Homo sapiens: one gene and its partner. The protein of the gene in region 2 purifies or fractionates together with the protein of the main gene of each other region. This does not show direct contact. Each region holds a gene or a part of one and is shown on either strand. Other genes may lie near its edges. The genes, in order: KDR and RALGDS.

The links.
Region 1: the proteins of RALGDS (region 2) and KDR purify together in Homo sapiens (pull-down; one study listed by IntAct). This does not show direct contact.

What each region holds. Positions count from the first base shown.
Region 1 is NC_000004.12:55,108,583-55,112,392, reverse strand, and holds part of KDR (vascular endothelial growth factor receptor 2 precursor), read left to right. Parts: intron 1-1,624; coding exon 1,625-1,739; intron 1,740-1,826; coding exon 1,827-1,990; intron 1,991-3,810. UniProt on the Homo sapiens protein: Tyrosine-protein kinase that acts as a cell-surface receptor for VEGFA, VEGFC and VEGFD. Plays an essential role in the regulation of angiogenesis, vascular development, vascular permeability, and embryonic hematopoiesis.
Region 2 is NC_000009.12:133,114,437-133,118,246, forward strand, and holds part of RALGDS (ral guanine nucleotide dissociation stimulator), read right to left. Parts: intron 1-3,810. UniProt on the Homo sapiens protein: Functions as a guanine nucleotide exchange factor (GEF) activating either RalA or RalB GTPases and plays an important role in intracellular transport. Interacts and acts as an effector molecule for R-Ras, H-Ras, K-Ras, and Rap.

The DNA of each region.
Region 1 (3,810 bases), on a different chromosome or scaffold from region 2:
AATAAAGCTAGAGAAAAGAAAATGTTATTAAGAAAATTGTAAGGAAGAGAAAATATATTTACTATTCATTAAGTGTAAGTGGATCATCATAAAGGTCTTCATCCTTGTCTTCACGTTGAGTAGGCTGAGGAAAAGGGGGAAGAGGAGGGGGTGGTTTTGCTGTCTCAGGGGTGGCAGAGGTGGAAGAAAATCTGCTTATAAGTGGACTCATGTAGTTCAAGTTTGTGTTATTTAAGGGTCAACTGTAATTGAACTGGAATTAAATTGAACTGGCCTTGAGAAAATCACCTTAATTTTTTGTTTATTCTCTTTCATTTACATAAATGTCTGAGTTTACATGGTAATTTGTGTGGCATCCTACTTATAAGCCTTGGAAAGGATTTTGGAGTTTATATTATGAGAATGCATCAATACAGTGAAATTTTAAAAATACCTTAGATAATGCTATTTATTAGAGTTGTAATCATAAAAGTGGCAACAACTATAACAAGTATGATTTAGTGAGCACTTACTTTATTAGCTCATCTCATCTTTGAAGCTGAGATTGGAACTCAAGTTCCTGACTACAAAGCTATGCTCTTGACCTCTAGGTCACGTGGCATCCCTAGCAAGAACTTGAAAATTTCTTCTGAATGAACAAAATAGAAATCACTAAGTGTCCTAAATTTATTTAAATTATTTCACTTGCCAAGATGCACTTGTCAAAATACACAGAGAGAGATGTGCTCTGGCTTATGTTTTTATAGAATTACTTTTGTTTTCCAGAATACTTCAGGGAAATAGGGGCAGAAATAAGGAGGTCAGTTGGGAGGCTAATTGCAGTTATCCAAGTGAGAGTTGAGGGGTGGCTTAGACAAGGGTAGTTGAGGTGGAGGTAGTGAGAGGTGATCTGCTTCTGGATATATTTTGAAGGTAGAGTCAACAGGGTCCGCTGATCAATTCATTGGTTGTGGAGTATAAGAGAAAAAGAGTGGAAGATGACTCGAGCGTTAGCATGAGCAACTGAGTAAATGATGGTGTTATTTACTGAGATGGCAAAGATCGAGAAGGCAGTGAGATTTAGGGAAACAGTGTTAGATATGTTTATCTGGAGATGCCTGTTAAACATCCAAGTGGAGATATTTAACATATCAACCCGGAACCCAGAGGAGTCAGGGCAGAAGATAACACATTTAGGAGGTACGTGAATGATACTTTAAACCTGAGGCTAGAGGAAGGTGTAAATAAAGAGGAGGTCTGAGGACTGAGTCCTGGGGCCTCATGGTGGAAGAGGTGTGTGGAGGCTGTCATGGGAGCAGAGGAGAAGGAGCACCCAAGCATCCCTGGGGGACTTAGAGAAAGCTGCACAGAGGAGCAAGTGTTTGAGTTGAGACTTGAGCAATCACTAGGCTTGTGGGAGTGCACTAGCGGGGAGAGAAAAGCAAATGCAAACACAGGAGGTGTGGGAGAAACACGGGAGGTGTGGGAGAAGCTGAAAAGTGACCCACTGAAAGATAGTACAGGAAATCTTGGAACTGCAGCTACTCAGACCCTCAAGGTCTTTGACGTTTCACTTGAAATGAAAAACTAAATCAAATGACCATTTACAGTAAGTTGACCTTTTTTTTTTTTTATTTTCTTCCAGAAAAACCTTTTGTTGCTTTTGGAAGTGGCATGGAATCTCTGGTGGAAGCCACGGTGGGGGAGCGTGTCAGAATCCCTGCGAAGTACCTTGGTTACCCACCCCCAGAAATAAAATGGTAACTACTGGAAATAAATGCAAAGCATCATTTCGTGTGAGAGCAAATCCTTTGACTATACTAATTCCTGAGAATTTTTTTTCATAGGTATAAAAATGGAATACCCCTTGAGTCCAATCACACAATTAAAGCGGGGCATGTACTGACGATTATGGAAGTGAGTGAAAGAGACACAGGAAATTACACTGTCATCCTTACCAATCCCATTTCAAAGGAGAAGCAGAGCCATGTGGTCTCTCTGGTTGTGTATGGTGAGTCCATTCAATTTTCCTCTCTGCCCAAGATTTATTATGATACATTGTCTTCCAAATCAGCCAAACCACCGTTCCTCTGCCTCCTGCTGCTTCACTCATATCATGGCTGGGCCTGCGTACAAAAGTCATCTGGCGTGGTGAAGCTGAAGTGAAACGTAGGACCATGTGCTCTGGCCATGTTTGTTTAAGAGGCCGTGTAAATGAGCTTTGTGGTGGACAAATGCAAGATTAAAGTAGTGATACCCTCGATAGCTAAATGTTGTGAAATAAGAATGCCCACAGGGACAGTTGTCAAGCTAAGTTATACTACCATGTTCCCCTCTCATGGAATTGCCCACCTGGTACACAGATGTGTAAGACCCTTCTCCTTAGATTTTGTGCAAAGCTTCTAGTTTGATGTTGTAGTTGATGTATCAGAGATGTGCAGGCACGTTCCAACTCTGAAGGCTTTTGAAGTTGACACTGTTGGCTTGGTTGGGAGCTTTTCTTTTTTCCTTTTTGACAGGAGTTCAGGATCTGATTTTGAGTCTGTAAAGGAAAGATAGTAAGTTTTTGATGTAAAGATAATTTGAACTTTGTTTTCTGAAACTGAAAGGTACAAATAAGTGTTTGGAATGGAGTGGGGAGAAGGGTGCCATGGTCAAGTGAGTGTGAGAGGTGCTAAGGTGATGTGTAGATGTGTAACAGGTTTCTTTATTGCAGGACTTCGCAGAACCTTTTATATGCTAATGTATATTGGTATTCTCCAGGAGGAGAGACATAGAGTATTCAAGGTTTAACAAACCTATTTGACCAGAGCACCTTTTTTCCCCTGAGCAAATTCATTAATCTCTCACTCCAAACAGTTTGAGAAATGCTTCTCTGTTGTAATTCTTTGTTCCCCCTTCTGGTACGGCATATTAAAACTTCAGGATATTTTCCCATGACATTAAGGTGCTTCCCTACGTGTCCTGATACTCTTCTGTAGGCCGCTGAACTTGGCTTTATTATTTTTTTTCAGGGAATATTTTAAAGATAGGCTGGGTGCCGTGGTTTGCATCTGTAATCCCAGCACTTTGGGAGGCCGAGGCGGATGGATCACCTGAGGTCAGGAGTTCGAGACCAGCCTGGCCAACATGATGAAAACCCGTCTCTACTAAAAATATAAAAATTAGCCAGGCATGGTGGTGGGCACCTGTAATCCCAGCTACTTGGGAGGCTGAGGCAGGAGAATCACTTGAACCCAGGAGGTGGAGGTTGCAGATAGCCGAGATCGCACCATTGTACTCCAGCCTGGTGACAAGAGCAAAACTCCGTCTCAAAAAAAAAGTTAACAGGTTCCAAAAAGGTTGTTTAGAAGCAGCATAGGTGTAGGGGACTGGGGAGAGGAGAAACTGGAAAGTGTATAAGTAGGATGGGAGGAGGAAATGAACAGGAAATAAAAACAAAACACGGACAGCAAATAGCCCATTTCATCAGTTCATGAAGCCACTAAATATTTTATTCACTTTAGCAAATTCTCTGCTATATGAAATAAACATAAAAAAGAAGTCAAGTCTTCAAAGCATAATCTGAGGCTTTAGGTTGACAGTAATAAGGAAATAGTTTTGACTTTGGAGTCAAAAAAGAAAGAAAGGAAAAAGGGAGAGAAGAAAGAAGGAAGTGAGAGAAGGGAGAAGGAAGAAAGGGGAAGAGGGAAAGGGAGTGGAGAGGGAGGGAGGGAGGAAGAGGGAGAGAGAATGAAAAACTCAGATGATGGTGGCAGGAATGCATTCTCTAAAGATTTACACCTTCCTTTAACATGAGGTGGTTTACGTGTTTGGGTTCAGAAGTCAGAG
Region 2 (3,810 bases):
CCTCTATCCCTTGCCCCCTCACAGGACAGAGAAAGAAAGCAGCCAACAGCCCTGGCAGCTGCCCCAGAACCCTCTGCAGCAAGAAAGGCAGGGTTCCAGCACCCACAGGCCACCCTAGGTCACTCTGTTAGCAGACAGCCCATCTGGGCAGCGCCTGGGCCCCAGGGCACTCTGGCCGGGCTGGGAGCTCAGAGCGGGAGGAGCAGGAACGGCCTAGTGAACAGCTGATGCAGAGAAAACGCTTTCCCCTGAGGGCAGGTGCCCAGGCAGCCGCTATGAGCTGACTGCTAGGAGGAGAAAAGAACACCACGTGCTTGGCTGTGTCCTCAAGGGACACTCCTGTCCCACCCCTAGCAGGCATGCTGATGTCCCTGGGCTCTGGGACCCAGTCGGCAGCTGTGCCTGTAAACACACTGTCTGGCCTTCTAACATTTGGGTCAGTGCAGTGAGGGTGGCATGGGGTCCCCGGTGAGCAGGGGCCCCCACACCCCAATGTCTCCAGGGACACAGCCCAGAGCCCTGAAGATGAGGATGGGAAACAGGGCCTGGTGGTGTCTGGTGAGTGTGTCACCTGATCAGCCTTCTCAGAGTGACAGGCCAGCAGGATGCCGTGTCCCTGGCTGACAGAAGGAGGAAGCCACAGGCCAAACCCAGACTCCCTCTGGGTAGAATAGTGAGGGTCTTGAGGAACCCTACGGGGCCTGCCCCAGCCCTGCCATCTCCCCGCTCAGGCCAACGGCACCTCCTCCCAGCATCAGCCTTCTGGTGCAGCTCCGGACTCAGACGCCTTTCCTTGGAAACCGTAGCTAGTGGCCCCCTGCCCCATGGATGGCTCCAGGAACTCACCGGCCCCTCCCAAGGAGACCTGGCTGAGGGCTGAAGCGGAGTGAGGAGAGGGCTCTAGCCTGCACCTCGGCCTGCTCCGCCCCTGGTCCTCCCCGGGCCTGTGTGTGGAAAGGCTCACGGCAGAGCCTCCGTGTGCGTGAGATTGTCCTGGGGGACCTCCCAAGCCCCTCTGAGCTGCTGCTCAGGTCCCAGTCACCAGAGGTCACCCCGGGGTGCTTGCCACCCCCCTGCCAGCACCTCACAGTTCTGGCCCACCAGACAGCAGCTCCCTGTCTCTCGCTGGCTCTGCCCAGCCCCTGGCCCTCGGCCTTGGTGTGTCATCTGGGGAGGGCAGCACTACCTGTCACAGGCAACAGTGGGGGTCAAGAGAGAATGCACACAGCTCGGTGACCGGCACTGGGACCTGATGGCGTGGTACCGGACAACACCTGACATCATATCCCCCTGGGGCCGGCGACGGATGCTGGGCTGTAAAAACCTGAGGGAAACTTGTCTGAGGCCTGCCTAAGGCTCAGGGACCTAGCCGAGGGACACTGTAAAGAGAGGCTGAGTCACCCTGAAACCCAGTGGGTGGGAGCAGCTTTCTGACTTCAGCTTTCCGCTCCAATACAGAAGCCAAACGTAAAACGCATCACAGAAGGCTGCTCGCTCTCTACAGAGCCCAGGCTCCTGCGACAGTGCGGGGCCCACGCTGCTGTGCCCTTCTCCGTCCTACAGAGGTGGGGACCCATGCCCGAGGACAGGAGCCGGTGGGGCGTGTGCTGGCTGAGCCAGAGGTGAGAGCCCAGGACTTCTCAAGTCATGAGCTCGGACCATGAGCCCCATCAAGGGAGGTGGAACGCAAGGGCCTCGTGTCCGTGTCCGTGACCCTCCTGCCCTCGGGCCTGCCCTCCAGCTCCAGGTGGGTGGACCCAACCCTGATCCCCAGCGCACAGACAAAGCATCAAGATGACAGGAGGCCAGCCCGGGGTGTGGGTGGGCCACACTCCTGATCCTGGGCATGGCAGCCCACAGAGGCGGCCTCAGACCGGGACGACACGCGGTGCCTGCCCACCAGGATGCTCCCTGGCCTCAGAAAGTGGAGGCTGGGAACCAACCAGTGCTGAGCCCCGCAAAGGCCGGCCCATCTCTCCAGAAACCCTCCCTGCCGGCCTGTGCCCTGCTACTCACTGATGGGAAAATCGTGCCTCAAGCAGGAGGAGGGAGAACCAGACCTCCAGGTCAGCCGCAAGCCTTGGGCATCCAGGGTCCCTGTCCACGCCCAGCCCCTGACAGTCAGGTGAACACAGGGCCAGGCCCGGGAGGGGCGTGGCTGGTGGCAGCTGAGGAGGAAGGTGGGCTGGTCCCAAGGGGGTGCAGGGCAGCCCCAACTTTAACCAGCTACAGTGCCCAGCACATGCGGGCACTTCCTGGGTGCAAGGCCCTTTGGACACCCATCACGTTTAATCCTCCTAACGCCCTGCCTGATGGACAAGGAAACAGCCTGAGAGGAACTCGCCCAGGTCAGGAGCCAGGACGTGGCAGCCAGAACAGGGATTTGAACCCTGGCCTGTTGGGACCCACCCAGGCCTGGCGCTGCCTCTGCCATGGTCTCAGGCTTGGAGCAGAGTCCAGCCCCTTGTGGCACAGATGTGGAGGAGGGGCCAGAGACAGGAAGGATTTCCTCAGGTCACACAGCAAATTCGCAGGGGAGGGTGGCAGGGCCAGCTTTCTAGCACCTGCATCTCCGAGAGGTTTGTGGACGTGCCCTGGGCAAAAGGCCTACAAGACACCAGGCCAGGGAAGTGCCATGCTGAAGGTGCCAGGTGACGCACCCGAGGAGCCCAGGGCACTTGGAAGGGTCAGGCCGCTCCCCTGGCACCTAATCAGAAAACCTCATTGTGGCAGCTGCTACCTGTCCACTGTGCCAAGTGCTGTGCAGGCTGCTCCTCAGGTCTCTTGTCTAACTCGAGGGTCCTCACCAGAACCCTAACAGGAGAGCTGGCATCATGTCCATTTTACAGATGAGGAAACTGAGGCTCAGGAGCACGTCTACATCTGCTAGGGGGCTGAGCTGGCATCCCAGCATAGCTCTCTTCTCTCCAGAGCCCAGGCTCCCTGCCCCTCGGTTGAGATGGACAAAAGTCTCCAGGAATGACTACAGGGGAGGCTGCCAAAGCATGCAAGCTTCCCCATGGAGGAAAACGCCAAAACCCTCCAACGCAGGTGTCCTGCCCCGCCCGCCAAGCCACTGTTGGGCTGCCATCCCACTGCCTCCCCCGCCCGTGGGCAGCCAAGGTGTGCGGAACTGGGAGAATTGGGTCTGCTCAAAGCTCAGCTTGTCCTGCATGAGGCTGCATGCATCAGTGTCTGCCCCTTAACAATCAAATGGGGAACACTGCTCTGCTGTTGCTGTATATCTGGGAACACAGTGATTCTGGGCCTGCAAGGCTGGAAGTCCAACCCTGGGACTGGGTGGCCACAGCATGGTGGCACCACGCCATGGGAGCCATCTGGGCGGCCAACCAGCAGCTCTTGGGAACCAGTCCTTGACTGCCTGGGTGCAGCTTCCTGAAACCGCTCCACTGGCTCGTTCAGAGCCTGCCTGCAGAGGGCCAGTGATAAATCTCCCCACTCTTTTCTCATTGGCAACGCAGACAGGTCCTGGAAATGCCCAATTTCCAGGTTAAGAATCAGACCCCAGCTCTGGCAACGAGCAGCTTGATATCTCCCAGGGCCATTCCTGAGCCTCCCGGGAAACAGGCCAGCATGCCTGAGCATCCCCCGCCTGGAGAAGGAACAAAGACCCAGGACCAGCCAGCCTGGTCCCCCTCTTCTGGGGGACCCTCCCGAGTAGAGCAAGAGGGGAACCTGAGGGTCCTGGGGGCTGCCCCTTCAGAGTCACCCAGGAAGCTCTCCTGGAAGACCACAGTCTGTACACATGCATGCAGGGACACACACCCACACAGGGACAGGCCCTTTGCC